Regions from separate parts of the Homo sapiens genome. Here region 1 is linked to region 2. A link means that fine-mapping ties the variant in region 2 to the plasma level of a protein whose gene starts in the linked region. Region 2 holds a variant in brackets. A gene starts in the other region. All regions are shown on their forward strands.

Region 1 (2,907 bases), not on the chromosome of region 2:
GCTCTCCTCCATCCTTCTTCATTCTAGAGGCAAACATATAGCTGGTGGACTTTATGTCTACTTACCCAACCCATGTTCACCAAGCCGATTTGCGGGCAGAAATGGAAGAGAAACCATGGCCAGGGATGGGTTGATACTTCTCTGGGAGCTGTTCTCCAAGCCAAGACACAATGGAGATATATGCCCATATTGCACCTATAATGGGTGCTGTTAGGTTATTGCCTGGTAAGGTCTGGTGTCTAGAAGCTACTCTCTGGCTATCAACTCCCAACAGCGAGGACCATTCTCTCCAGAGTCCCTCTGGACAGTTTCAGATGTTACCAACCGCGCCATATAATCTTCTGTGTGTTGCCTTCCACTGGTACCACTTTGTATCCAAATTTTGGTCAAATTTTGGAACAGCGGAGGCTATTCCCAAGCAAAAGGCAGCCAGGACGAGCGAAAGATTCATGTTTCAAAACCTAGAAAGAGAAAAGAAATGAGTATCTGATTAGACCAATCCTAAAAAGCCATCTTACAGCCCCCGTGGAATAGAAATATTTCAATTATTCTCCCTAGCATTTCCCCAAGGACTGTGGAAGAGGCTGAAACAGGCCAAGTGGAGGTATTTGATGGGCCCACCAAAATTAAAAGCAGCCTGCAGAGTTGGAGGCGTTGAAACAGCATATGCGATAATTTAGGGTATGAGAAGGGTGTGAAAGATACCTGACGGGTGAGAAGCTTAAGGCAACAACTAGAAAACTAGGAAAGAGTTGGTCCAGGTTTTGCACCAATTGTACTGAGGTCATCCAGGCAAAACCTCACTAATGAAGACGTACCATCCCAAGTAGATGCAAGCGGATCCCCAAGGAACACCACCTCACACCTTCTTGGCTGATACACAGCAGGAGATGAGCTATGTCTTCCAACCTCTCCTTTTGGAATAAAACCTTTCGGGAATCCCTTTCCAGGAGACACTGGGAAGGAGAGCACCCACTATTCCCGCCGTCCCACACTTGGGTCTGTGCTACTCGCTCCCCTAAACCGGGGCAGGGTCACAAGGCCGCGCCGCTGGAAGCCAGGGGCCCCAGGGCCAGGGCCCGGACCGAGGCAGGCAGCTCCCGGAGCTCCGGGCGGGCCAGGACCGGGGCCGCACCGCCTGCTCTCGCCCTCTGCACGCGCCGCCGCGCCCCGAGAATGTTTGCGGCGGTGCAGGGAGCGGGGGCTCCGCGGCCAGGCTGGGGGCATGAAGCCGCCCGGTCCGGTCCGGCTTCAGCCCACAGGATGACTGACCTGCCCCGCCCGGGCCCTCCCAGTGGTGCCGGCGCCTCCCTGGGGTCTCCAACCGCCCTCCCCCGTTCCCCACCTCGAGGCTGGCAGAGCTCCGGGCAGAAGCTCTCACTCCCAGAAGCGCCCGCCTCCTCTCAGTGTCCCTAAAGGGGGGTTCCCTCCTCCAGTCCCCCTTCGCCCTGTCCCTCGGTCTGGTCGGGGGCGCTCACCAGCAGCCGTCGCAGCTGCGCAGGCACCCTCAGCAAACAAGCCTCTGAGATTACAGACGTCCGCGGTCTGGTGCAGGTTCGCCCGCCTCGGGATTTAAGTTTCCAGGCGGCCTTCCCCGCCCCCACCGCCTTCCCGCGCTGCGATTGGCTGTGCCGGCCACTGGGCGGGGCCCCGGGCGCTTAGAGCCCGCGCGTGACGCAGCCCAGTCCCAACCCGTCTCAGGTCTGGGCGCGCCTACCTCAATACACCCTGGCTGCGGGAAGCTGGGCCGGGCGCCCGGGGGCTGCGCGGAGGAGGGGGAGGCGCCTCCCTCAAGGGCTCAGATCTACTGACTATCCCGACTTACTGCGCTGAGCGGGTGGTTTACAGCGAGCTCTGTGTGGTATTTCAGTCCCTACTTTAACTTAGTCCTAGAGTTTTTGGTGAAAATCTGCAGGGCCGGGAGCCAGGGTACTCTCGTTCAGTGGCTCCTGTTTAGTCCACGGCAAAGGTGGGACGGAGTGGAAGAACGCACAGCCCCCAGCAGAAGCATTACCTTCCACTTAAGGGTGGGTGCATCAGGGCTTTAGAAGAATCTGGTAAGGAAAGGCACTCCCAAAACACGGGATGGATGGTCGAGACCGGACACCAGGAGGGACGGGACTAGCTGATAGGGTGTCCAGAGACCGCGGAGCGTTTTGTGGTGCGTCCTTCCCAGTCTGTTGCATTCAGGAATTCTTCCTTCTCCCATGTCTTTCAATACCAAAAAAAAAAAAAAAAAAAAAAAAAAGAGTTACAGAAATATTTGGTTAATAAAAAAGAGAAAAGCGTTGAGAATGGTGAAATAAATTGCTTTAAAAATTTTTCTTTTGTAGAAATGGAGTTTGGCTAAGTTTCCTTAGGCTGCTCTTGAATTCCTGGCCTCAAGCGATCCTCCCCTCTCAGCCTCCCAAAAGTGGTGGGATTACAGGCGTGAGCCACTACGCCCAGTCTGAGAGTGGTGGAAATTGCTTTTACTTACCTACTCTCTGCTTATGGGTTACAACGTCTCTTCCTCAGTATTCAAAGTGTGCTTCTTTTGAGATTTAATAAATTTACTTTAAAAATGTTTAATACCGGCCGGGCGCGGTGGCTTACACCTGTAATCCCAGCACTTTGGGAGGCCGAGGCGGGCGGATCACGAGGTCATGATATCGAGACCATCCTGGCCAACATGGTGAAACCCTGTCTCTACTAAAAATGCAAAAATTAGCTGGGCGTGGTGGCGGGCGCCTGTAGTCCCAGCTACTCAGGAGGCTGAGGCAGGAGAATTGCTTGAACCCGAGAGGCGGAGGTTGCAGTGAGCTGAGATCGTGCCACTGCACTCCAGACTGGTGACAGAGCGAAACTCTGTCTCAAAAAATAAAAATAAAAATAAAAATATATAATATCAGGGTTGAGGTGATGCAG
Region 2 (2,920 bases):
ATGACAGACATTAAGTTTCAGAAAGAGAAAACATTTCGCCATTTTAGGACTTATTCCAAAGAAACACCATATAGCCAAATAATTTTGGAGACCATTTAAAAGAAGAAGACTGTTCCGATATGATGGTATCCACAGAAGACAGGTCTGAAAGTAAATAAAAGATGGTAGAATCAATGAAGTCATTTCAAAAGATCAAAAGGAGAAGAAAAAATAGTGCACATGGCAGAAATAGAAATACAGGGGCACTAATAAAGTATTTGGACTCAGTGGGAGCAGATGAGACAGGTCTCTGCTTGGAGAATTAGATTTGAAAAGAGGAATAACGAGAAAGGGAGATGACAAGATAGACTTATATCAGGTGGGTTGTTGTATGGAGACACCAAGAGAAGGATGCTGGTTAGAGGTTGAGTGTTGGGAGAGTGGAAGCTGAATCAAGGGCAGTGAATGAGAGTATGTATTAGTTCCAAGGCTATTAAAATAACAGTTTCCATGCCATTTCCTCCACCACTACCATCACCACTGCCATCACCACCACAATAACAACTATCACCATCATTATCATCGCCACCATTATCATCACCACCGTCACTGCCATAACTACTATTACTACCACCATCACCATCACCACCACCACCACTACTATTAACATCACTAGCATCATTGCCACAATTACTATTGCTACCATCATCACCACCACTATCACCATCACCGTTACTACCACAACCACCATCATGCTCACTATCATCATTGCTACAACTACTATTTCTACTACCATCACCATCACCACCATCACTACCACCATCACCATCATTACTACCACCATCACCACCACCACCAGCACTGTCATGCTCACTGGCACCATTGTCACACCTATTATAACCACCATCCCCACCATCACAGCCACCATCATCACCACCATCATTGCCACAACTATTACAGCCACCATCACCATCACCACCACCACTACCACCATCATCATTACCACCACCATTATCACTACTACCAGCACCATCATCATCACTACCACCACCACCATCAACATCATCATTGCCATGACTACTATTACTACCAAAATCACCATCACCATGACCACTATTGCCATCATCAGTTTTATCACCATCATCACCATTAGCACTACCACCCCCAAATTATTGCTCCTTTGCAGGTAGAGACAACTGTACTTCTTTCTTTCTGATTTGAATGCCTTTTATTTCTTTCTCCTGTGTAACTATTCTGGCTACGACCTCCAGTACTACACTGAATGCCAGTGGTGACTGTGGGCATCTTTGTCTTGTCCTGATCTTAGAGGGGAAAAGCTTCTAGCTTTGCACTGTTGAACATGAT[G/A]CTAGGTGTGGCTTGTCATATATGGCCTTTATTATGTCGACATACATTGTTGTTGCACCTGATTTGGTGAGAGCTTTTGTCAGGAAAGGAGATGATCTTTGAATGGCTGCTATTTTCGTGGACTCTTTGGCTCTCTCTGGATGCAGCTTAAGTCTGCAGTAAGGACTCTGATGAGTGAATTCTATGCAGCTTGACATTCTTGTCTGAATAATAAAAGTTCTGCAAACAGGCGGCTCCAGTAATCTGTTTATTATCATTTCTCTTTCCTAGTTAGAATTTATCGTTTTTCATGTGTGTGAAAAGGAGTCTCTTCATCGTTTCTAGGCTATGCTATACTTCTGTATCCAGAAACTCTGACTTAGAGAGCCTGGGAGATGTGAGAGCATTTGACAGAAATATAAGTTAATGAAAAGAATATTTAATCTAATTTTTTAGATGGGAACACTGAGACCCAAGAACTTGGAATGTCTACACCTAACTGCAAGTGAATTTTTTAAAAGAGTTTATATTACGTGCCTCATGGAGACTTAGAAGACTTACATCTCTTAATGTTTTGAGATTGACCAATCTTAAGTTAGAGTTGTTTCCAAGAAGAGGAAAAAATAAATGATCAACCTCTCTAGCAGATAGATAGTCACAGGTTTCCTATAACACAATTTAAAGGAATCACAATTTGTAAATGCACAGATTACAAAAGGACTATTCATCTTATAAACCAAGATGCTGTAGAACTAATTTCAATTAAAGTTTTGCAAGTGAATTTTAAATCACATCGAATTAAGCAAGAATCAATTTACATGCAACTTCTAGCAAAGAAATTACTATGTAGAGTAAGAGACACCTGTTAACTTCACTACCCGAAACCCATTGCCATGATTTTTACCCACCACATTTTCTTAGGACAAAGTGTTAAAAGATTGGCATCTTTGATTTCAAGCTGTTTCCGGGACCCCTTTGAAGAGTAAAGATGTTTTTATAGCTTCAGTTGTGTGTGTGTGTTTGTGTATGTGTGTTATGTGTTTGGCAATAGGAATACTTCAGGATGAATCTCTAAGCTGATAGAGTTCAGAAGAGCAGGATATTCTGAGAGGGTTTTCTGTCTCTCTGAGTCAATAAAAAATCAGGCTATAGTTCTCTTCTTTCATCATCTAGAAAATAGAGAACATTATTTGTCTTTTAATCCTTTGTAAAGATAAAAAGTGGGTAAAAAGGTAAGGGTTAGGGTCAAGAGACCTGTATTCAAGGTCTGTGCTCTGTCACTTACAGGCTAGTTAATCATGGATGAGTCCCTTAACTTCTCTGAATCTTAGTTTTCTTATCTATGAAATAGGGTTAACTCTTGGTGCCATTAGGATTAAGTGAGAATGTACTAATGTTCAAAGAGTATGTAAAAGTCGAACATAGTGCCTGACATAAAATTGATACTCAATAAACTAACACAAAATAGACACTGAATAAACATGTGTTGAAAAATATGGAGATTTATGTGTTCACACTAATTGGTTTAAGTCTTAAACCCAGGAAAAAATCTGAACTGCAACATGCAATGAGGAGTAAACCTTGTTTGCTAAGTAAA

Alleles and levels. Positions count from the first base shown, and alleles are read on the strand shown. Strength reflects both the effect of a copy and how common the allele is.
As copies of G replace A in region 2, the plasma level of the protein whose gene starts at base 1,550 in region 1 goes down (weak association).

Evidence for each region. A credible set is the group of variants that fine-mapping cannot tell apart. PIP is the posterior inclusion probability: the model's chance that the variant is causal. Protein levels are from antibody-based Olink assays in UK Biobank. Linkage for the fine-mapping came from a reference panel and not from the study's own genotypes, which makes the PIPs less certain.
Region 1: CTSV starts here. The variant in region 2 is the best candidate, but not a certain one, in a credible set for the plasma level of the CTSV protein (UK Biobank, PIP 0.55).

The regions. Positions count from the first base shown.
Region 1 is chr9:97,037,593-97,040,499 of GRCh38, forward strand. CTSV (cathepsin V) reads right to left here and starts at 1,550. Exons shown (of 8, transcript NM_001333.4): 1 at 1,479-1,550; 2 at 326-461; 3 at 1-23. The coding sequence starts at 451. RefSeq lists a silencer at 1,585-1,894.
Region 2 is chr16:79,785,931-79,788,850 of GRCh38, forward strand. The region is part of intron 1 of LINC01229 (long intergenic non-protein coding RNA 1229); the gene reads left to right. Among named protein-coding and RNA genes, the nearest start is that of MAFTRR, 17 kb to the left of the region's middle. The variant G/A (reference allele first, on the strand shown) is at 1,345.